Linked DNA regions of Homo sapiens: all the other regions are reported to be linked to region 5. The links are microRNA targets in miRTarBase. Many come from high-throughput screens and were not tested one by one. Region 5 holds a microRNA gene; each other region holds the end of a gene's coding sequence.
What was found. The annotated mature microRNA hsa-miR-1343-5p reads UGGGGAGCGGCCCCCGGGUGGG and lies in region 5 at 1,081-1,102, shown strand. An mRNA with a match to its seed (bases 2 to 7 or 8) in the 3' UTR can be bound and repressed. Matches are read on the target gene's strand: a 7mer-m8 pairs with bases 2 to 8, a 7mer-A1 pairs with bases 2 to 7 and ends in A, and an 8mer does both.

Region 1: the mRNA of MNT is a reported target of hsa-miR-1343-5p. Seed matches in the 3' UTR shown: 8mer at 1,638-1,645.
Region 2: miRTarBase lists ARL8A as a target of hsa-miR-1343-5p. Seed matches in the 3' UTR shown: 7mer-m8 at 336-342 and 7mer-A1 at 1,067-1,073.
Region 3: the mRNA of UBFD1 is a reported target of hsa-miR-1343-5p. Seed matches in the 3' UTR shown: 7mer-m8 at 675-681 and 8mer at 591-598.
Region 4: the mRNA of TMEM81 is a reported target of hsa-miR-1343-5p. Seed matches in the 3' UTR shown: 7mer-A1 at 1,072-1,078.
Region 6: the mRNA of PSMD3 is a reported target of hsa-miR-1343-5p. Seed matches in the 3' UTR shown: 7mer-A1 at 2,891-2,897.
Region 7: the mRNA of AMOTL2 is a reported target of hsa-miR-1343-5p. Seed matches in the 3' UTR shown: 7mer-m8 at 1,939-1,945.

Annotation. Positions count from the first base shown.
Region 1 is chr17:2,384,086-2,387,085 of GRCh38, reverse strand. It overlaps MNT (MAX network transcriptional repressor), which reads left to right. Exons shown (of 6, transcript NM_020310.3): 6 at 1-3,000. The coding sequence ends at 185. Among named protein-coding and RNA genes, the nearest start is that of MNT, 15 kb to the left of the region's middle. RefSeq lists an enhancer at 279-1,103.
Region 2 is chr1:202,131,746-202,134,745 of GRCh38, reverse strand. It overlaps ARL8A (ARF like GTPase 8A), which reads left to right. Exons shown (of 7, transcript NM_138795.4): 7 at 230-1,342. The coding sequence ends at 279. It overlaps GPR37L1 (G protein-coupled receptor 37 like 1), which reads right to left. Exons shown (of 2, transcript NM_004767.5): 2 at 1,154-3,000. Among named protein-coding and RNA genes, the nearest start is that of GPR37L1, 10 kb to the right of the region's middle.
Region 3 is chr16:23,569,920-23,573,266 of GRCh38, reverse strand. It overlaps UBFD1 (ubiquitin family domain containing 1), which reads right to left. Exons shown (of 7, transcript NM_019116.3): 7 at 1-2,787. The coding sequence ends at 2,677. Among named protein-coding and RNA genes, the nearest start is that of UBFD1, 14 kb to the right of the region's middle.
Region 4 is chr1:205,080,956-205,084,302 of GRCh38, reverse strand. TMEM81 (transmembrane protein 81) reads left to right here. Exons shown (of 1, transcript NM_203376.2): 1 at 1-1,174. The coding sequence ends at 750. Among named protein-coding and RNA genes, the nearest start is that of TMEM81, 1.8 kb to the left of the region's middle.
Region 5 is chr11:34,940,771-34,944,117 of GRCh38, forward strand. It overlaps MIR1343 (microRNA 1343), which reads left to right and starts at 1,067; the gene lies at 1,067-1,150. All of the region lies in intron 2 of PDHX (pyruvate dehydrogenase complex component X), which reads left to right.
Region 6 is chr17:39,997,356-40,000,644 of GRCh38, reverse strand. PSMD3 (proteasome 26S subunit, non-ATPase 3) reads right to left here. Exons shown (of 12, transcript NM_002809.4): 11 at 3,265-3,289; 12 at 2,686-3,141. The coding sequence ends at 3,064. Among named protein-coding and RNA genes, the nearest start is that of PSMD3-AS1, 16 kb to the left of the region's middle.
Region 7 is chr3:134,355,051-134,358,050 of GRCh38, forward strand. AMOTL2 (angiomotin like 2) reads right to left here. Exons shown (of 10, transcript NM_016201.4): 10 at 297-2,713. The coding sequence ends at 2,655. Among named protein-coding and RNA genes, the nearest start is that of MIR6827, 11 kb to the right of the region's middle.

The sequences.
Region 1 (3,000 bases), not on the chromosome of region 5:
ACACCCTCTCGCACCAGCAAGTCAACGGCACGGCCGGCCTGGGGCCCCCGGCTACTGTCATGGCAAAGCCGGCCGTGGGGGCTCAGGTGGTGCACCACCCCCAGCTGGTGGGCCAGACCGTGCTCAACCCTGTGACCATGGTCACCATGCCCTCCTTCCCAGTCAGCACACTCAAGCTGGCTTGAGGACGAGGCCACTCAGAGGCCCCCAGTGGGGACAGGGAGGGGGACCTGTCCCCCACTCTCTCACCCACCAGCTCCACACATTCCAGCCAGGCCCAGGCCAGCCCCCCCACCCACCCCCAGGCCTCCTAGGGGAAGGGGGTGCAAAGACTCTGAGCCAAGGGAGGGAAGGGCCACCCTGCTGCACTAGGACTTGGTAAGATGACTCTGAGAAAATGCGAGACTCTGATGGAATGTGCCACCTGTCCGGCCCAGTGCCAGCTCCAGTGCCGCTCCTGCTTCCCCTCCCTACCCTCGGAAATCAGTGCGATGTGGACGTCACGCTCCCTGACTTCTCCCCCGCCCTGCCCCGCCTTCGTGTGCTGCTGCTGCTATTGCTGTCTGGTGAGGTGGCCCAGGCCCCCGGCTTTCCTCCGGAGCCTCATGTTCTCTTCCCAGGCCTTTGGAGGGGAAATGGGGAAAGCAGAACTGAAGCCACTTGGCCCAGAAAGCTGCGGATTGGGGTGATAAGGGGCCTTGCTCTGAGCACAGGTGACAGATCATAGGAAGTGGCTGGTCTGGAGTCCCACCCGGACAGGTGGGGCCTCAGCCTGGGGCTCTCTGACCCGGTTGCAGTCACTGTGATTCGTTACCGTAGATACTACTTAAAATGATTCTCTACCAACAATAAACCAAACCCAGCCACTGCCAAGCTTCCTGTGCCCTCACCCCAATCCCTGCCACTGGGCTCTGGACCTCAGGAGGGCAGGCTGAGGTGGGGAAGGAGGGACTTGGCTGTCCTTCCCCTTCCCCGTCCCCTGCAGCCTGGGTCTGGATGGGAGGAGAGCCACTGGGCCCCTGTCCCCAGTCCCCAGTCCCCAGCCCTGGGCTTGGCTCTTGGCTTCCAGAAGGCAGCAAAGAGGGGCGCTGTCCTGCGTTCAGCCCCTGATCTCTGACCTCTGCTGAGTGCTGGGCACTGCTCCAAGGGACAGGTGGGCCTGGCGGCCTGTGGGTTTGGGTGCCTCCTGCAGTTTGGGAGACATGGACCAGCATCTGGTCTTGTTTCCAGGAGCATAGAAGCCACATCGTTGAGACATCAGGAAGGTAAAAACCCAGCGGCTTAGCCAAGCCCTAAGCCTGTCCCCAGACCAACCCTGGGACCTATACAGAACAGAGGGCCAGAGCTAGGGCTGCTGCTTCTGCTCCAGCCCCTTTGCCTCTGTCCTCCCATCCCCTCAACACCCTGCTTCTCCCGGGGACGCTTTTGAGTGGGCCCTGCCCGGGGAGCTGCAGAGCAGCAGCACCTTTCTCTGAGAAGAGGTCCTTGGTTGGGTCAAGGACAGGGCTGAGCGTGGAAGGGGGAGGAGTCAGGGGCTCTGTGTTAGGATGCGGCTTTCTCTGCCTCTGGGCAGCCTGCTTTGGCCTTTCCTTGTATGTGGGTGTTTATTACAAGTGGCTTTGTGTCAGACACGCTCGGCTCCCCACCTGGACACACACTCACCAGTGGCCTTTCAGTGTAGCGGGAGGAAGCCGGTGTCCCTGGATGTGAAGCTCACACTGATGGGCTGGGGCAGGGGCCTGGGCCGGCGAGGGGGCCGGGGGGAGGGGACAGAGCTGAGGATTTCCTGGAGTGCCCTGCAGGCACAGAGGAGGTCAGCAAAGGTCTTGAATAGATTTTCTCTGGAAATAAAGAATCCTTAGATGCCTAAAAATTCCCTTCCTGTTCCCTCCTGGTCCTGGACACCTCCCAGGGGACTGTTCCTTATTTCTCTCTCCTGGTGTGGGTAAAGGGACAGTTACAAACCAGGTCACCATCCTCAGAGGCTGAGCCCTGTACCCACCCCAGCACAGCCACCTCCGCCAGACCCCGTGGCTCTGGGAGAGCCAGCTTTGCTATTCCCATTGTGACAGCGATGGCAGGCCTGACCCACGGGGCAGTTAGAGCAGCCTCGTGGAGCTCGCCCCTCCCCTCAGCCTGCCCACCTCTCCCTGCATCCTGAGGCCAGTGGCCCCCGGGCCTGCACAGATACCTCATCATCCACCCGCTGCCCCTCCCCGTCCCTGTCCCCCAGCATCGGGGGCCTGCAAATCTAGTGCCGAATGACTATGTCCAGATTGGTGACGATGGGTGTTGCTGTTTTTCTTGTCGTTTGTGAACGCTGTGATGCTGTGTGCCCAAGTGGGCAGTCACCACCCAGCCCTTCCTTGGGCGTCTCCCCCAGAGTGCTGTCGGGACCACATCTGTCCTCACCCTGTGGGACCGCCTGGCCCTCCCTCCCTAGCCCTTCCAGCCTGGGACACACACACACACACACACACACACACACGCACGCACACGCACACATCTTACCTCTCATGCGTGTTTTACCTTTTGATGTTCAGAGTGGCTCACTGGCTGGGAGTCCTTACCTCGGGGAGAGGGGGAGGTTGGTTCCTTGGGGGGCCAAAGAAGGCAGGGAATGCCTGGAGGGTAACTGGGGGGCCACCATGACCCCTTCTCTCTCCAGAAACAGCTGCTTCTCCCCCCATCCCAGGGTCCCACCCCCAACCCCCAGAGGTGGCCCTTGTTTACAGTGAGGACTCGGCCACTGTGTCTCTGTTTCCTGAAATATAAACTGTAGCGACCCCAGACTGTAGAGATTTTTATGTGTTTGGATACATCTGCTGTGTGGAAAAAAAAAAAAACTACAAAAACCCTAATTTTGTACATACTGTATTTTTACTATTGAACTGTATTCTAGTGGCTGTTCATGCTCCAAGACTTTAGTTACCGAGACATGAATACTATCCATGTAATAAGCACTTGCCTGGAATAAAATATAAAACTGAAATAAACCTG
Region 2 (3,000 bases), not on the chromosome of region 5:
TGGAGTTCAGTGGCGTGACCATAGCTCACTGCAGCCTCCAACTCCACTCCTGGGTTCAAGCAATCCTCTCACCTGAGCTTCCCATGTAGCTGAGACTCCAGGTGTGCGCCACCCCTCCTGGCATCTCTGGACTTCTGATACCCTTAGGTTTGGTTTCTTGGGCCTCTCTGCTGCCCCAGCACGGCCAGTACTTGCAGGCCTTATAAGCTGTTCTCTTTTCTCCTATCAGACATCACCCTACAGTGGCTTATTCAACACTCGAAGTCACGGAGAAGCTGAGACTCCAGCCCTTCTCCCTCAGACCAGGGACCGTCATCATCTAAACCTGAAGCCGAGCTCCCCGCCCACCCCTGTCGTCCCCCTAAGCCCACCCCTCCTCACCCAGTGTGAGGAGGGCCCTCTGGGGACCCCAGAGTCCTGTTCTGCTGAGGTTTGAACTCCTGTTTTTATTGTAAAATAAATTGCCCCCCATTCTGGTCCCCTAACTTCTCACCCTTCCCCGCTGCCTTTGTCCCATCACCCAGCCCTGCCTCCCTCCCAGCAGCCCTGGGCCACAGCCCCCGCCCCTGGCTTTTCCCCGGCCCGCTCTTGTACCTCCCTTTTCAACACTCTCTGTTATTGTCCTGTGTGTACAGTATATATATGTATATATATTTTAATTTTTTAATTTAAGCAAAGACTAAAATCAACCATTTGATGCTGCAGGGGCCTTTCAGGATCTGGGAGGGGGCAGTCTGGAGAGAAGGAGGGAGACGCAGGTGGACTTGGGGCAAGTTCAGATCAGAAGAGGTGCAGGCTGGCACCTGCGGCAGGTACCAGCCTGGGCACTGGTGGCCGCCTCCCTGTCCCGTGTGTTTCCACCGCCCAATCTGGCTTGTCCTGGCAGTGCTTGAATGCCACAGGCTGGCAGGGGCCTCTGGGGGCCCCTCCCCTCGACCCCCAGCCTGGGTAGAGCCACCAGGTACGACGACCAGGTACCAGAAACCACCAGGCACACGGGGCAGAAAGCCAGCGTCCATGCCCCAGCAGCCCCCTCCTGCCTGTTCCTGGCTCCCAGCTCCCGCCCCTCCCCAGGGCCCCCACCTCCACGGCCCACTTCATTTTCTGTTCTCATTTTGCAGAGTTGCACAAGGAGAGAACTCAGCATGGGGGGTTGGTTCTTTGGGTTCTGTTTGTTTATTTGTTTAATTTAATGATTTGTAAAGTGATGTTCCTCTTCCTTTTTTACACTTTTCAGCTCATATTTAACCTCTGTTTGGAAAATGATTCTTGTAACTGTACATTTTTTTGCTTCCTAATAACAATGACAACAAAAAAAATAAATGACCAGTTTTGTGTTGGGGGGGGTGTATGGTGCTGGTTACTTTTCCGCAGTTGGCATGGGTTGCCCTACAGGCCCACAGGGCCACCAGCACACCCCCGCACGCTGGGCACCAACAGAGCCACGGAGCGCGAGCACATGCCCGCCCGGGGAGCACAATGGCGCTGCACAAAACGGCCTCCCACACGTGCGTCCAGGCTCTTGCGCCACCTCCTTCTCATTCTCTTTTCAGACTTTCATGTAGTCCCAGCTTTGAGCCAGCAGCTGCCACTTGGGGCTGCAGAGCTCTGTTGAGGGAACTGCCCAGGGCTGGGTAGAGGCAGCAAGGGGACAGGGCTGGGTGCTGTTGTGTGCGAACTGAGCTGCACTCTCCTTAGGCCCAGTTCAGGCCTCAGCCCCTCTTTCCCAGGCCCTGGATCTCACCAGCAGCCAAGGTTGAGCCAGAACCAGAACCCTGTCCCTCCGGCCCCCAGTTCCTACCCCAGAACCAGTTAACTGTGCTTCAGGGGTAGGGCTGGGCCCACAGAGCCTGGGGGAGTGTCACCGCCTTTGCTGCCTCTCAGTTAGTGTCAATGCTATGGGTTTCCTGGTAGGAGCCCTGCCCTCGCTCCTCTGCTGGATTCTAGTCCCCCACCCGACCTCACCGTCAGAGCTGGTCCTCCCTCGGCACTGCTCACAGCTGCTGCCTCAGAGCCTGGTGACCCTGCCTGCTCAAATCCGAGGCCATCTTGACCCAGTTTCACAGTAAGCCCCACCTCCTCCCGCTCCACCTCCCTCGGCCTCTCCTTCACCCTGGAAAATGGAGCAGGCCCTTGCAGAACACCCCAGCCCTTCTCACCCCTCCCACTGCAGGAAAAAGGAGCCAAACTGTCCCTTAGTCCTGGGAGTGGGGACCTTGACTCCCCGTCCTGGGCCCTCCAGCCCCTCACCTTCATTGGTGCCCAGGGCTTCCTCCTGGAGGCAGTCATCAGACCTGTCAGAGCAGTTCCCTGCCTGGAGAGGCAGTTCCCCACTGCCAGAGAGTTGGAGGAAAGAATGTGGATGGAATTTGGCATCTGAAGCTAAGTGATTCTAGGGTACCTCCCAACTCCTAAGCAAAATGGGACATGTCCTCCTGGCTAAGGAGGTTGAATGGGAGCCAGGGCTCTATCCCCTGCCCTCTCCTGACTGCAAGCATGGCTAGGTTTTCCTGGGCCTGGGATCCCGGGAGAGGACCAGCAATCTCACTCATCTGGGGCTGTTTCCAGGCCAAGGTGCCTTTCTCAGATCCTGTGATCCTCACTGAGGATTGAGGTTTGAGATAAGAGAGCTGGTTACCAGGAAGCAAGCAAGCATCCTCCTTCCACAGTGCCGGCGTGCAGCAGGTGCTAATATGACTTAAAGAATTTGTTCAGGGGCCAGGTGCTCATGCCTGTAATCCCAGTACTTTGGGAGCCCGAGGTAGGAGAATGACTTGAGTCTGGGAGTTTGAGACCAGCCTGGGCAAAATAGTGAGACCCTATCTCTACAAATAATCAAAAATTAGACAGGCGTGGTAGTGCGCACCTGTAGTCCCAGCTACTCAGGAAGCTGAGGCAGGAGAATCGCTTGAGCCCAGGAAGTGGAGGCTGCAATGAGCTGTGATCACACCACAGCACTCAGCTTGAGTGACTGAGTGGGATCTTGTCTCAAAAAAAAAA
Region 3 (3,347 bases), not on the chromosome of region 5:
TTCGAGTCAACGCTGTTACAGTCACTCTCCGGAAACCAGCTCTTCCTTTATCCACCTGCACGGCCCCTGCCACAGTGAGGGAAAGATCTGGTCCCTCTGACAGTAAGGAAATTGTATAGAAATTATCCTGAGGAAAAAAAAAACCACTGTGACGCTACCTAAAAGAAAGAGTATTTCAATTTGCTTACACAGATTTAGTCAGTACACTCCAGACTGTAAGAAATGTATGAAGAGACTGCTTACGGAACTCAAAGACTAAACAGTGAATACTACTGTGGCCCAGACACGGATCGAAAACACTTCTCCCAGTGGCTTCTGGTGCTATGTCTGCTCTCCCGAGAGCGTCCAGCAAGGTCTTCCATGCAGACAGGGTGAGGAGCCACAGAGCTCAAGATTGTTGAAGCTGATTTAGTGAGCTCTGTAAAGCAATACTCAAACAGCTCCGTACGAAAAGGTGTCATTTACATTATTATTTATATATAGTATCTCGAAGTAAGGAAAAAAGCACCATTTTACTGAAAATAAAAAGGCTCACGCAGGCTTTGGTCCTCCTGAAATGACACCAGCCTGAGTGAGAAGCAGTTGGCCCTTGGGGAGCGGGGAGATGATGGAACGCTGTCACCGGCAAGAAGGGAGGCCAAGTGGCCCGGCAAGCCACAAGAATGGGGCAATAAGGGGAGCAGGTGGAGGGGCCTCGGAGAGCAGCCAGGCTAGTCTGGGGATGGAGCCACCTGCTCTGAGAGATCAAAAGTAGGTGTGCGGCACTGTCAGGACAAGTCTCTAGGACTGGGGCATTGGCAAACAAAAGGGGCAATGTCTGACCCGAGATGATGTTCTACTTAATGCATCTCATTTCCCCCAAAACCTGTCACCTGCAGACAGAGGCTTGGACAAGTAGCTCAGATGTACTCTTTTCCCCAGGAACTGCAGGCCGACAAGGACAGAAAAGCTGCAATGACTGCTCCTTTCTCAAGGGATGAAAAAACAGGCTGTTTCTTGGATGCTGCACTTCACAAATGTACTAATTGCCCCCAAAAAAGCAAAGAGTAGATTTTCCTGCCTAGATGCATCACTTGGCATTGACTACACCATGGAAAGCAAGAGTCTGTCTATGTGGGCTGGATTCCTGAACTACAGCTTAGAAGGGAAGGGCGTAGAATATCATCATTAACTGGCTCACAAGGAATAGTCATCTTGGGCGAACACATGCTAATACGTTTCACAGAATGAGGGGTGACAGCCTAGAATCCAAAATGTGATGTTTGGAACATTTCTCGCCAAACCTTACTATGAAAGCCTGCAACCAGTGAGAGGAGAACTGCAAAGACGGCAGCAGAGAAACAGCAAACAGCACAAAAGAGATAATTTACCAAGAGACTTTCCCTCCTTTCAGAGGCAACCAAGCCAGAAGGAGATGACAGAAGTTCACGTGTACAGAGAACAGAAGGGCTAAAACCAGAAGAAGGTGAGCTAATCATGAAAGCAATTTATCCCATTTTTGTTGTTCAATAACACTGGCCAACCTGCTAGGGTCAGATGTCTTCTTCAGAAAGGCAGCATCTCTGAACCTGGGATAAAGGACACTTGAACTGAATGCATGAGCAGAAGGACCCAATGGAGAAGCATAATTGAAATCATCCTTGGACTGCTTAAGAATTTCTTGAAAACTTCCAAAGAAAGAAGGTTATCTGGATCTGCAGCTATATGGCTGTATAACTATCTTCTACCTGGCTCCTCCTGGAAGAGGTCTTTGTCTGCTTGGGAGCTGGGGCTGTTGAGCGGCACAGCCCAGGCACAACCATGCCAGGCTGGGCCTCTAGGCCAAGCTCAGTGAGGGGTGCAGACAATCATCCAACCAGCAATGGAACTCCTTGGAGATGGGGGCCCAAAGGGCAAGACATTTAAACAGGAGTCACTGGGAGATACTCTGCTGCTCAACGAACACCACAGCAAGTGTGAGAGCTCCTTGCCCAAGACTGAGCAGCTCTTCCTCTCCCACCGTGCGTTCACAGGCAGCAGCAGCACGGCGGGAGGGAGCCCAGGAAAGGAAGCGTTGATGAGGTACCAAAAGAAGAACTGACATCTTTGGGTTCTTAAAACAAAAACTCAAATTGAGGAAGCGAGAGAATGAAAAAGGGAAAGAATTAAATCTGAATCAATGGACAGAAATATGTGGCTTACTAACCCACCCCCATTTTGCATACAATTTTATACAAAAAAGGAAAAAAAAAACACCCCAACTCATTGCAATGCAGTCCAAATGTTTGCAACCAAAGATGTATGAAAATATTTCAATTGAAACTGCTTTTTTTTTTTTTAAAAAAAACAAAGCTTTTGATCATTCCCTTGTCAACATAATTGGCAGATCTACTCTCAAACACACTTAAGAGTATTCCACACAACATGTTCGGAATTCAGATTTATTGATTTCCATCGTATTGACTTTAAAAATGGTATGAAGCTGACTGCAAGAAAGGGAACTGGTAATTTTAAGTTAAAATTAAGCTAATGGTGAAAGTACATCACCTCTGGCTTCAGTCACCACATCACCTCAGATTGAATATAGATTTTTTATGAACAAAGTTCCAGAACTCTGAAATCCAGGGATGCTGCAGGCCTCTCCCGGCAATGTCCTTCACTTTGGGTCAGTCTCCTGGGCCAGAGGTGAAAGTGCTTTCAAAAATACTGCCATTTCCCCAGCACAGTGTCTTTGATTGCATCCACATATTGAGTTGGAACCCAGTACACCCAGTAGTAAGAGGCTTCCGTGGGGCCCAACTGAAACGCCTGGAAGGGAAAAAGGAAAACCAAGCGGTACTTCAGAGGTCGGGAGACCAAGCAGGCAGGACAAACATGGGTGAGGGTTGGGATGTGAGTTAATTAAAAAGGGAAGAAAAACCAAACAAAACTTTGCACGTGGGGAGCATTCTCCCAACCAAAAACAAAAACAGGCAGGCTGAGGGTTAAGCTGAGCCAACCCTAAAGCAGCAGTTCTCAAACCTGAGTGGTCATCAGAGCCATCCGGGGGGCTTGCTGGAACATGGATCAGCAGGCTCCAACCCTGTGAAGTTTCTAATTTGGGGAGGTCTGGGGTGGGGCCTGAGAAACTAGCAAGCTCCCAGGTGATGCAACACTACTGATCCAGGGACCACAGTTGGAGAAACGCTGCCCTAGAAAACCTGTCACACATGCTCAAGAAAACAGGTATGAATGTTCATTGCAGCACTGTCTGAAACCACAAAAACCTGGGGCAACCTACATATCCATCAGTAAGGGAATGCAGAATTCAAAGTGACAAGGCTTAGTCACACCAATACTGGAGCTCTTTTTAAAGAGGTATCAACTGG
Region 4 (3,347 bases), not on the chromosome of region 5:
AGTTTTGTCCTTGGGAGCCTGGGGTTGGCCTTCTACCTGCCTTTGGTGGTGACTACACCTAAAACACTGGCCATCCCTGAGAAGCTGCAAGAAGCTGTGGGGAAAGTTATCATCAATGCCACAACCTGTACTGTCACCTGTGGCCTTGGCTATAAGGAGGAGACCGTCTGTGAGGTGGGCCCTGATGGAGTGAGAAGGAAATGTCAGACTCGGCGCTTAGAATGTCTGACCAACTGGATCTGTGGGATGCTCCATTTCACCATTCTCATTGGCAAGGAATTTGAGCTTAGCTGTCTGAGTTCAGACATCTTGGAGTTTGGACAGGAAGCTTTCCGGTTCACCTGGAGACTTGCTCGAGGTGTCATCTCCACTGACGATGAGGTCTTCAAACCCTTTCAAGCCAACTCCCACTTTGTGAAGTTTAAATATGCTCAGGAGTATGACTCTGGGACATATCGCTGTGATGTGCAGCTGGTAAAAAACTTGAGACTCGTCAAGAGGCTCTATTTTGGGTTGAGGGTCCTTCCTCCTAACTTGGTGAATCTGAATTTCCATCAGTCACTTACTGAGGATCAGAAGTTAATAGATGAGGGATTGGAAGTTAATCTGGACAGCTACTCCAAGCCTCACCACCCAAAGTGGAAAAAGAAGGTGGCGTCAGCCTTGGGAATAGGAATTGCCATTGGAGTGGTTGGTGGCGTGTTGGTGAGGATTGTCCTCTGTGCGCTAAGGGGGGGCCTGCAGCAGTGACAGCTTCAAGAACTTAACAGCCTTGCTCCTGAAGAACTGGCTGCCCAGGAAGCCAAGCTAGCTTTTTAGGGGAGTGTTCCAGCTGCTGGTAGTGGATCAGCTTAGAGGGAACACTCCCACAGCCAAAAGAATGAGTGGGAGAAATGGAGGGGACAATCTCCTGGGAGCTATGCGCAGTAACCTAACTTCCTTATGTCCCATGGATCTCTTCCTGATCTTCCCTGCCCATTGGGTACCCAGGAAACTGCAAGCATTGCCTGTGTTCCTGGGAAGAGTTCTAAGAAGCTTGCATTCATTTTCTACCCTTTATGACTTGGATGCCTCCCCACCTCCATTTCCCCTCTTCTGAGCTGTGTATTCATGTAGAGGGATGTATTCAGCCTTTTTAGTGAACATTTTTTTTCAATAAAAGTAATTCACAGTAGCTGTATGGAGACCTTTTTCTGCTCTTCAGTTTCTTGTATTTATTTAAATTGTCCCATAATCAGTCTGGCTTCATTTTCCTCAGGTTTCTTAGAATAGACATTAAACCAATTGTCTGCTTTTGGGGGCAGGGGGTGCAGTGCATAAGCCTATGGCAGGGGTTGTTAGTAATGACATCCAACTCAGGTGTGTAACAGTCACTAAATATTAACAAATTGCCTGTTCTGCCCAGGTAAATCCCCTGTTTGGTATTAAATTGAATTTCTTGGCAAAACACTAGATCCTTCACCTGGTAGGTTTCCTCTTACCATTCAGACAGCACCTTGGCTTGCCTCCACTCCAGTCCTTTTAGCTCTTTCAGTGCCCTGAAGCTTCTATTCCTGGGAGGGTCAAGTATTGGTTTCTTACAGCAGCCAAGGCCCCCAAAGGAGGATTAGTACTTTGATTCCTCCATAGGAAATCCAGTCTTAAGACTCCGAGGCCATTCGGACCGTGTCTGAGATAATTGGCTTGTGGAACCATCAGGGAAAGACTCTTGGCCACCAGCTGAGCTAATTCTACTGAGAGAATTACAACATTTCTTCCTCTCACTTTTCTCTGACTACAGGAGGTAGCAGAAACCAAAGACCAGCGATTCTCTAGATGTGTGTTAGAATCATCTGGATGACCTTGTGAAAAATAAAGGTTCTTGAGCTCTAATCCTGACAATGCTAATTCAGTTTAAATTATGGTCAAAGGATCTCTATTATTTATTTTACTTTTAACTTGTAAAAATTTCAAACCCATAGAAAAGCTGAAAGAAATGTTTGGTGACCATGCATAGAACCTTTACCAAAATTCACCAGGAATTAACATTTTGTCACAATTATCTTTCTCAATATAGATTGATTTTGTTAAACCATTTGAAAGCTAGTCACAGACATTGCAACTCTTAACTCTTAAACCATGTATGCATCTCCTAATAAGGATGTTCTCTGTAACCACAATATCTTTATCACACTAAGAAAATTAACAATTTCTGGCCAGGCGCGGTGGCTCACGCCTGTAATCCCAGCACTTTGGGAGGACGAGGCGGGCAGATCACGAAGTCAGGAGATCGAGACCATCCCGGCTAACACGGTGAAACCCCGTCTCTACTGAAAGTACCAAAAATCAGCCTGGTGTGGTAGCGGGCGCCTGTAGTCCCAGCTACTCGGGAGGCTGAGGCAGGAGAATAGTGTGAACCCAGGAGGCGGAGCTTGCAGTGAGCTGAGATTGCGCCACTGCACTCCAGCCTGGGCGACAGTGCAAGACTCTGTCTCAAAAACAACAACAAAAAATTAACAATTTCTTTCTTTTCTTTTTTTTTTTTGAGACGGAGTTTTGTTCTTGTAGCCCAGGCTGGAGTGCAATGGTGTGATCTCAGCTCACTGTAACCTCTGCCTCCTAGGTTCAAGTGATTTTCCTGCCTCAGCCTCCTGAGTAGCTGGGATTACAGGTGCCTGCCACCATGCCTGGCTAATTTTTTTGTATTTTTAGTAGAGACGGGGTTTCGCCATGTTGGCCAGCCTGGTCAAACTCCTGACCTCAGATGATCCACCTGCCTCGGCCTCCCAAAGTGCTGGGATTACAGGTGTGAACCACTGGACCTGGCCAAAATTTAACAATTTCTTAATCTTATATAGTTTATACAAGTTGAGCATCCCAAGTATGAAAACCTGAAATCTGTAATGCTCCAAAACTTGAAACTTTTTGAGTACCAACATGGTGCTCAAAGGAAATGCTTATTGGAAGAGCTTAGATTTCGGATTTCTTGGATTTGGGATGCTTAACCTATAAGTATAATGCAAAGATGCCAAAATCTGAAAAAGTCTGAAATCTGGAACATGTCTGGTCCCAAACATTTTGGATAAGGGATACTCAGCCTGTATTCACTTCTCAATATCCAAAATCTTAACAGCTTTTTAATTTCATTTTTGATCCAGGATCAAATAGAAGTTCATGTGTTATGTTTCTCTTAAGTATCTTCTTTTACAACAGACCTCCTGCATTCCTTTGTCTTTCATGACATTGATTTCGTTGAATAATTTACTCCAGTTGTCTTAGATAAGATTCCATAATTTGTATTTGCCATTTCCTCATGAGTAGATTCATGAGGAATGAATCTTAAACATTTTTGACAAGAGCCCTATGTA
Region 5 (3,347 bases):
TTGCCTTTTGTCTATGTTTCATATAAATAGAAGCATGTAATGTTTGGTCTTTTGTGACTAGATTTTTTCAGATTTAGCATGATTAAGGTTCATCCATGTTGTAGCATTTATCAGCTGTTCATTCCTTTTGTTACTAAATTATATTCCATCATTATGCGTTTTTACATTTATTGCTAAATCTTTGTATTATATCAGAATTTTTAAATTAGTGAATGGAATTATAGATTATAGTTTTATTCAATAGAAGTTTCTGTGGTGATGGAAATGTTCTGTGTTAAACTGTCGAATACAGTAGCTACTAGACTTTAAGAAGCCAGAGGGATGTGTGGGTGGTTGACCTTGTCTAACTGGGCCCTTCTCAAACTCTCCTACTCATGCCTTCACCCCATAGGGCAGGACCTCAACTGGCCTAGCAACCAGGTTGCCTCAGGTCTTTGGCCATGCAAATATTATCCTTCTTTGTGTGTGTGTGAAGTGAAAAGGGATGACAAACACTGACTAGGGGTCCCTCCTCTACATTCCCATTCTGCTGTAGGTACTAATTGGATGGGATTGTCATTGCCTGCTTGTTGTACTGTTCTTCAATCAGATTAGGAACTTCTTGAAGCAGTTCTGTCTTATTTTATTACTATTTTTATCATAGTGTCGCACACAGTGTCATTCACATGGGCAGCTAGTAAATACTTGTAGAGTCAACAATTGAATTATTTTTGTTTCTGATTATTGTTATCATTATGGTTCAACATAGCACTAAGAAGAGGAATTTTTCTTTAATGTTCATGTTAATCTGATAACTTGGTCTTACAGATAAAAACTAGCTCTCTTCCACCACCACCACCACACACATCTTTTACGTAAAGACTTTTATTCTTAATTTTTGGCAGAACAAAATTATTTTGTGAAAGCCTCAGGACTTATTCTATTAATAAAATAAACATCACCATTAACTGTGTTTGACCAAGGCTATGCTTAATATCTAGAATTTAAAAAGAGAAAGGGAAGCCTCCGTATACTTCAGTCCTCAGCTCTGGCAGCTGCCCATCGGACAAAGGAACAGGACGATGATGCTGGCGTCGGTGCTGGGGAGCGGCCCCCGGGTGGGCCTCTGCTCTGGCCCCTCCTGGGGCCCGCACTCTCGCTCTGGGCCCGCTCCTCTTCCGCCACTGCCATGGACCACGAGAAGATGGTGCAGGAACACTCCAGGGCTGCCATCTCTTTCTTCAATCAGTCAGCTATGAACCTGACAGCTGAGAAGCCATCTGTCATCTCACGCTGTCCAGGACCCTCTATCCTAGCTGCTGAGTCTTTTCCACTCTTCTCCACTTTAAACTCTTTGTGGACAGAACCTTCTCTTTTTGTTGTTTTCATACCCAGTGCTTAGTACAGTGCCTTATACATTAATGTTTGTTGGATGATCTGGTAGAAATGACAGAATATGGAATAAATGTGTCCTGATTCTGGTAGAAATGACAGAATATGGAAAAAAACCGTATCTTGATTCAGGTAGACATGACAGAATATGGAATAAATGTGTCTTGATTCAAAATGGTTGTATAGCTAACATTTTATTTTTACCTAGAGATGTTGTAAAGTGTTACATAAAGATGTATGTGAAGCATTAACACTTCCAGCCCCATGACTTAAAAAATATATATCTATACATTTAAAATTTTCCTGAGAGTCAGAGAGATTAAGTAACTTGGTCAAGATCACTAGTAACTGTCAGAGCTTGGAATCAAACTCATATTTGAATTAGGAGAGGTTCCTTGTAACTACTCTGCCAAGGAGTCTTTCTAAGTTATAGCACTAAATTTTTGATCACAGCTGAAACTCAGTAGATTTGAAATATTCATGGCTCATTATTTGCTCTCAGAGTTTTCTTTTGGCATTTACATGATGTTTGATTATTGAAAGATAGAACTTTGGTTTTGTGATGAGTTAGGGGTAATGCTTCCATACGTAATATTACTATGTTTTTAAAACTTCCCTGTGATTTATTGGTAAAGTGTTCTGTGTTTCTTTTCCCTACCTCCCTCTCTTTTGTCCTCTCCTTTTTTCCTTCTCTCTCCTCCTGCTTTTCTCTTCTACCCTCTCCCTTGGCATTCTCATCTAGCTAACATATATGTCTGTGTTATGTGAATAGATATAGTTTTTTAAAAAAGAAAAAAAGGCTATCTTTTTAAATATCAGAAGCATGCTACAAATCAAATGTTAGAAGCAAAAGAAATGTAAAAGATAATTTGATGTATACCTTATGAGGAAATAAGGATTCGTGAAGTTATCATGTTTTTTTCTAAAGCATTTTAATCTAAAATTCATTGGGTATGGTGCATTGGCCATGAAACCTGAGGAATGGGGATGGGAATATAAAACATTTAAGTGTCCTGTCCGTATTGTGAAGAAGCTCATAGTCTAGTAAATAGAGGAAATCACAATTTAAAAAAGTAATTAGCAGTAATATAACATTTTATATGCAATTTGTGATTTTTAAATAAATTAGACCTACTATAGGAATCTGGAATATGAACAAAATTATGTAGGTCAAGTTACTCAGAGAAAGTTATATAGCTGAAGTCGAATCTGTAGTTCTTAAAGTGTGGTTGGAATTTGAATACTGATGAACACAAATGATGATATAGCATCATTTTGTTTTTCTGTGGCTAGAGTCTGTTTTCTAGGCATCTAAGAGGTATTTAATTGCTGGGTTTACTAGTTCTATAGTTTTTCCCGTGATTATAGCAGAAATCTTTGAGGGTGTGCTTTTTTTCCCTTTTGAAGTGCAATCTGTTTTAACCACTAAAACATTTAAAGAAGTATGTAAGATGATATAATCTGACACTGTAGCTTTCTCTATGACATACAAAGGTCATTTTTGGTCTCTTCCTGCATATCTTACCAGCCTAATCTCTCGTCACTTCTCTCGCATACTATTTGCCAGTTTCTCTGAAGTTTCCTGTTCTCTCTGCCTCCAGGGCTATAAGTGTATTACCTTCTACCTGGATCACTGCCTGTTTACAGATTGTCTCCTCCTCACCTCTTCAGGCTCAGAATAGGTGGTCATTGTATTCTAGGAAGCCTTTTCTCACCTTACAAAAACTGAATTAGATGCCCCTCCTGAACATTCCCAAAGCATCCTGACCTCACCTTATCCTGCTGTATTTTCCAGTTTACTTGTCAATGGATATTAAGCAAGCTTCTTGAGGTCAGGAATCTTAAATCTTTGCTGTTATTACTGTCCACTGCTGTATCCTCAGTGCCTACATATGTATATATATTTTATATGTAATATATAAATATATAATACAAATATGTGTGTGTGTGTGTATATATATATAAAATATATTTAT
Region 6 (3,289 bases), not on the chromosome of region 5:
GAGTGTAGCCACCTTCGTCAGTGAGATCAGCTAGATCTGATGGATAACTTACTGCAGCTTCTCCATCAGCACTTGCTGCTTCACTTTGCACTTTTATGTTACAGAGACGGCTTCTTTCTTTCAACCTCACAAAACAACCTCTGTTAGCTTCTGACTTTTCTTCTGCAACTTTCTCACCTCTCTCTGCCTTCAAAGGATTGAAGAGAGTGAGGGCCTTTCTCCGGACTAGGCTTTGGCTTAAAGGAATGTTGTGGCTGATTTGATCTTCTTTCCAGACTCAAACTTTCTCCGTATCAGCAATAATGCTATTCTGCTTTCATATCATTTGTGTGTCCACTAGAGCAGCACTTTTAATTTAATTTATCATTTTTATTTTTTATTGTTTTGAGACAGAATTTCGCTCTGTCACCCAGGTTGGAGTGCAGTGGTGCGATCTTGACTCATGGTAACCTCCGCCTCCCCACTTCAAGCGATTCTCCTGCCTCAGCGTCCTAAGTAGTTCGGAGTACAGGCATGCACCACCACGCCCAGCTAATTTTTTGTATTTTTAGTAGAGATGGGGTCTTGCCATGTTGGCCAGGCTGGTCTCGAACTCTTTTTAAAACATTTTTTTTGAGACAGAGTTTCGCTTTTGTTACCCAGGCTGAAGTGCAGTGGTGTGATCTCGGCTCACTGCAACCTCTGCCTTCCGGTTTCAAGGATTCTCCTATCTCAGCCTCCCGAGTAGCTGGGATTACAGGCGCCCACTGCCATGCCTGGCTAGTTTTTGTATTTGTAGTAGAGACGGGGTTTCACCATGCTGGCCAGGCTGGTCTCGAACTCCTGACCTTGTGATCTGCCCGCCTCAGCCTCCCAAAGTGCTGGGATTACAGTTGTGAGCCACCGTGCCCAACCTGGAGCAGCACTTTTAATTTCCTTAAAGAACTCCCCCTTCACAACTTGGCTACCTGTTTGGTGCAGGAGACCTGACTTTTGGCCTCTCTCAGCTTTCAACATGCCTTCCTCACTAAGCATAATCATTTTGACCTTTTGATTGAAAGTGAGAGATGTGTGATTCTTTCTCCCTTTTTCTGTTTTCTTGTTTTGAGACAGGGTCTCACTGTCGCCCAGGTGGGAGTGCAGTGGCAGGATCTCAGGTCACTGCAGCCTCTGCCTTCACCTCCCAGGCTCAAGGGCTCCTTCCACCTCAGGCTTCCTAGTAGCTGGGACTACAGGTGCGTGCCACATGCCCAGCTAATTTTTATATTTTTTGTAGCGATAAGGTTTCATTGTGTTGCCCAGGCTGATCTCCAACTCCTGAGCTCAAGGGGTCCACCAGCCTTGGCCTCCCAAAGTGCTGGGATAACAGGCGTGAGTCACCAGGCCTGGCCAATGACTCTTTCTCTCACTGGAACACTTAAGAGGCCATTGTAGGGTTACTAACAGGCCTAATTTCAATATTATTTTGTGTCTCAGGGCATGGAGAGACTCAAGAAGAGGGAGAGAGACAGGGAATGGAGTGAGCAGTGTGAGCAGTGAGAACACACTCGACATTTATTAAGTTCACCATCTTTTTTTTTTTTTTGACAATGTCTCACTGTGTCACCCAGGCTGGAGTGCAATGGCACGATCTTGGCTCACTGGAACCTCCGCCTCCTGGGTTCAAGCAATTCTCCTGCCTCAGTCTCCCAAGTAGCTGGGATTACAGGCGCCTGCCACCACACCCGGCTGTTTTTTGTATTTTTAGTAGAGACGGGGTTTCCCCATGTTGTCCAAGCTGGTCCTGAACTCCTGACCTCAGGTGATCCACCTGCCTCGGCCTGCCAAAGTGCTGGGATTACAAGCGCGAGCCACCGTGCCCGGCTAAGTTCACCATCCTATATGGGTGCAATTTGTGGTGCCCCAACAATGACAATAGTAACATCAAAGATCACCGATCACACATCACCATAACAGATATAATGAAAAAGTTTGAGATATCGAGAGGATTTACCAAAATGTGACCCAGAGACGCTAAGTGAGCACATGCTGTTGGGAAAATGGCACCGACAGATTTGCTTGATGCAGTGTTGCCAGAAACCTTCAATTTGTCCTTTTCTTTTTCTTTTGAGACACAGTCTCACTCTGTTGCCCAGGCTGGAGTGCAGTGGCGAGATCTTGGCTCACTGCATGCTCCACCTCCCGGGTTCAAGCAATTCTCCTGCTTCAGCCTCCCAAGTAGCTGGGATTACAGGCGCCTGCCTCCATGCCCAGCTGATTTTTTTATTTTTAGTAGAGACGGGGTTTTGCCATGTTGGCCAGGCTGGTCTCAAACTCCTGACCTTTAGTGATCCGCCCACCTTAGCCTCCCAAAGTGTTGGGATTACAGGCATGAGCCACCATGCCTGGCCAAACCTTCAATTTGTAAAAACTGCAATAACCGTGAAGCACCATGAGGTGTATTGGGAGATGAAGGTCTGCAGCTGGTGATGGACACATGGTACACCTTTCCTAACAAGACCTTACCAAAGCCACACAAGTACGAAAAGAGAGTAAACCTAGGCCCCCGACCCCAGGTCAGGGTCCCTTCATCCTCCCCTGGGCACCTCCCCATCTGCAGACCCATCGCCCTCAGATTACACACCTGGGGCTAGTACTCTAAGGCCAAAAAACCCAAAATCTGAGCCTGCCAATACTGCAGTGAAGTATAGTAACTGATGCACAAAGCACTGTGGAGAACTTTTTATTGTTTAAAAATCATAATCGAAGCTTCAAAAAACATACAAGCCAAGACATCCCAGTTCTAGTCCCCCACTCCCTAAAGGAGTACACAGAACTATCCTTCCCCTCCTGCTCCCACACTGCTGGCCAGGACCCTGCCCGGGGAGGTTGCCTGCCCACCCTCCTGCCTGCTGTACAGTAAGTCACCGGCTGGGGAGGAGCCCTGGGGGAGGTCAGGGTGGCTGGCTCCCAGCACCCCCACCCCCTGCACGAATGCAGCATATGAGCTGTGTGTGGGAAAATGGGGACAGTGCCCTGGGCAGGGGACCCCCAAGGGGGAAAGAGCCTGTCCCCATTCCCCCTACCCCTCCCCAGCCCCCCAGCTCAAGGGAAGCTGTCATCATCATCTTCTGCCATCTCCTTGGCAAACTCCAAGTCCTGCTGTTCTCGCTCACGCCGTTCCTGGGGAGAGAGGCAAGTGAGGCCAAAGCTTCAGAGCAGCTCAGCCCTTCCAGACACTCGCCCGACTCCCCTTCTGTGTGGAAGTTTGACCTTTCGGTCTCACCCAGAAAGCAGAGAGCTTACCTCTGCAGACTCCAAGTCCTTGTTG
Region 7 (3,000 bases), not on the chromosome of region 5:
TTGTCTTCATACTTGTGGGCTGGTAGGCCAGCTCGGGAAGACACCTTCTCTAGGATCTCAACTTAGTTACTCATCAACATGGCTCCCGAGTTCCCACATTGGCCCCGAAGACACTTCACTCACGGCCATGGTGGGAAACTGTTCCTGTCACATGTCACGTAGGCTGTCTGGTAGCCTGCTGCTGCCTCATGGCCAGCTAACTGCTGGCCACATGCTGACTGGGAACCTCAGGGTCCTAACACACTTATAGAAGCACAAGACAGGTATTTTGTTTCTGATACAAGAACAAGCAAGACTGAGAATGGCTTTCTTTAATTTTGAATTGGAGCAATATGCTTTCCTGAGCATCAGGAAAGAGTGGTGATGTCACAGCAAAGGAGGGAGGCGGTGGCTAAGAACATGCACATTCTTGAATGTCCTCTGCATGGTGCCTGGCCTTCTGGATGGTTTCGGACAAAACTTTATGTGCTAGGTGGGAGTGGGAAAAGGAGTGGGGGAAGGATAAAGCCATCTTTGGACACCCACTCCCACTGTGGATAACCACAGCGTGTGGCCGAACAAAGCTGATTAGAACACAGCCCTACCTCGGGAGGCTGCCATCTGCCAGGCCCTCCTTCCCCTCCCAGCCTTCAAGAAATGTTATCTATGAAAGGGGAAAAATGCCAGCCACATCCTCATTCCAACTCTATCCTTAATGCAGCTTCACAAAATTCCTAAATTCTATCTTGGGTCCTTGAAGAGATTGGACTATGACTTGGGTGGCCCCCCAAAATCCTCACCCTTTCCCTTCCCTCAGTGCAAAGTCTCACCTGTGCAAAGACATCACTTTTAATTATTTTTTTTTAATTAAAATACTGTTATACCCAGTGGAATGCGGCAGCAATCCTGGTACAGGGTGGCATAACAAAACAGCCATGTTTACATTTTAAATATTTACGATAACTTAAACATACAGACACACATCATGGTCTTTGGCAGAAAATGTTCACAGCACAAAAAATACTTTAAAAGAAATACCAAATATTAATCCAAAATATATTAAGTTGTTTTTTTTCTTTCACAATATTTTTTGCCTTTTTTTCCTCTTTTTTCTTTTTGCTTTGTAAACAATGCACATGAACCAAATGTATTTTTCAGCTTTAAACAGGGGTAGGGGAATTTTTTAAAAAAAATTGCAATTGTCCAGCAAATGCAAATGTTTAAAAAGGAAACTTGAGGAACCATGGAAATAAAACAACACATACCAAACCTAAAAACGATAAAGGAAGAAAACAAAGAATCAAGGAGAACTAAAAACGGTAAAGACAAAACTGCTAAAACCCACCAATAGCTCCTGGGGCTGAAGTGAGGGACTCTTTAAGACCAGAAGTCAAAGTCACTGCTGCTAGCAGGCTGCCATGTGGGTGTTTCACCCCAATTCCAAAGCATCTGGTGCTGCTTTAGGGCGCTGGGCATGGGTAGCTTGAGGAGCCAGCCTCCTGGGCACTGTTTTGTGATGGGGGCTCCATTCAGAGGACTATTTGACTCTTGTAGCTCATTAACTAGTTTTCAACTGCTTTGCTCCTCTCCCAAACCCTCCAGGTGGGAATGAAGACACTTATGCTAACAAGACATCTCCAGTTTCTCAGAAAGAACTGGTACCGGGTAGGGCCACCGAAGCCCACCTGGGGGCATGGCAGATGTCTGTTCACGGTGGCTCATTTCATCTGGCTCAGGGTTTATGACCAAACTGACAGGATGTTCCAGGGACAGGAGCTGTGGAGCCACTTCAAGAGGCTGGTGGTGGGGGTCCCGTGGGCATTTATAGGGCTCAAGATAGAGGAAAAGGCAGCCGAGATCCTGGGAATCGAGCAGCTTTAACATCCACGGGCCAGGAACTTGAGGAGGAGGCATAACTGGGAGGCCAGTCAGAAGTTTCAGAAACTGACAGTAGGAAGAGGGGAGCACAGCCCATGGAGACACATCGGAACCTGCAGGCCTCAGTCTTCTGTTCCACAAGAAAGGGAATTATATACAAACTGCGCACTGTCTCCCAGTCCACTTAAATGGCCCCTCACCCACAGCAAGTGAGAAGGTGAGGCTGTGTCTTCTCCAAGACTAACACCCTTAATAGTCCCCAAAAAATTCAAGTCTTAGTATCCCAAGAAGGCAGTGAGGAACTGAAGAGCAGATGACGTTGGCTGGAACCAAACTTAGCCAGAGAACAATATGGCTGACTTGATTAGTGAACCAGTCCACCTGGTGTCCACGGGCAGCCGTCCGTGGAAATTAGTTCCCCAAACCAACACAGCCACTCCCTCCCTGCCTGACTGACAACTGGCAGGGCAGAGGGAGCTCAGCTCCTTTCTGAGCTGTCAGTTGCTACCCCAGTAGCAGGCCTTGGGCAAGAAGTCAAGGCTGAATCCTCATTCTCCATAAGGCCCGGAGGAATGTGGGCTAAGAAGCAGAGTCTTCTGGGGGTGCCGGTGCTCTCACAGCTCTCCTCTCCCCTGGGGTCCTCCTCCTGAGCTCCTGGGACCAGATGGTCAATGGGAATGAGTGTCTGGCTGGGGAAAGGGACGGAGCAGCGGTTGACGGGGCTGCTGAAATGGCTGAGAGTGGCACAGGGCAGAGGAGGGGAGAGAATGGCTCAGAGTCCTGAAGCACCACCTCCTTCAGATCAGTATCTCCACCATGTCTGACAAGTCCTGGACTCTGGATGTAGCTACAGAGTCTGGAGACAGACAAGAACACAGGCACATGCCAATGAGTGTTACTAGATTGCTTTTAAAATCCTGGCACATTTGAAAGACAAAGATCGTTCTTCACCAACTTTTCCCACCTCTGCTGCCCAGGTTCCCAGAACTCGGCCAACCAAGCACAATGCTCTGCCCCCTTTCAGTGCTCAGCCCAGCCCACCAACCTCCGATGTGTAGGATGCATTTGTTTCTAACTTTGAACTGGTTGGAGGGCTTAGAGAGAGCAATGGAGAGCCCTGAGGGAGGCAGGCTGCAGCATTCT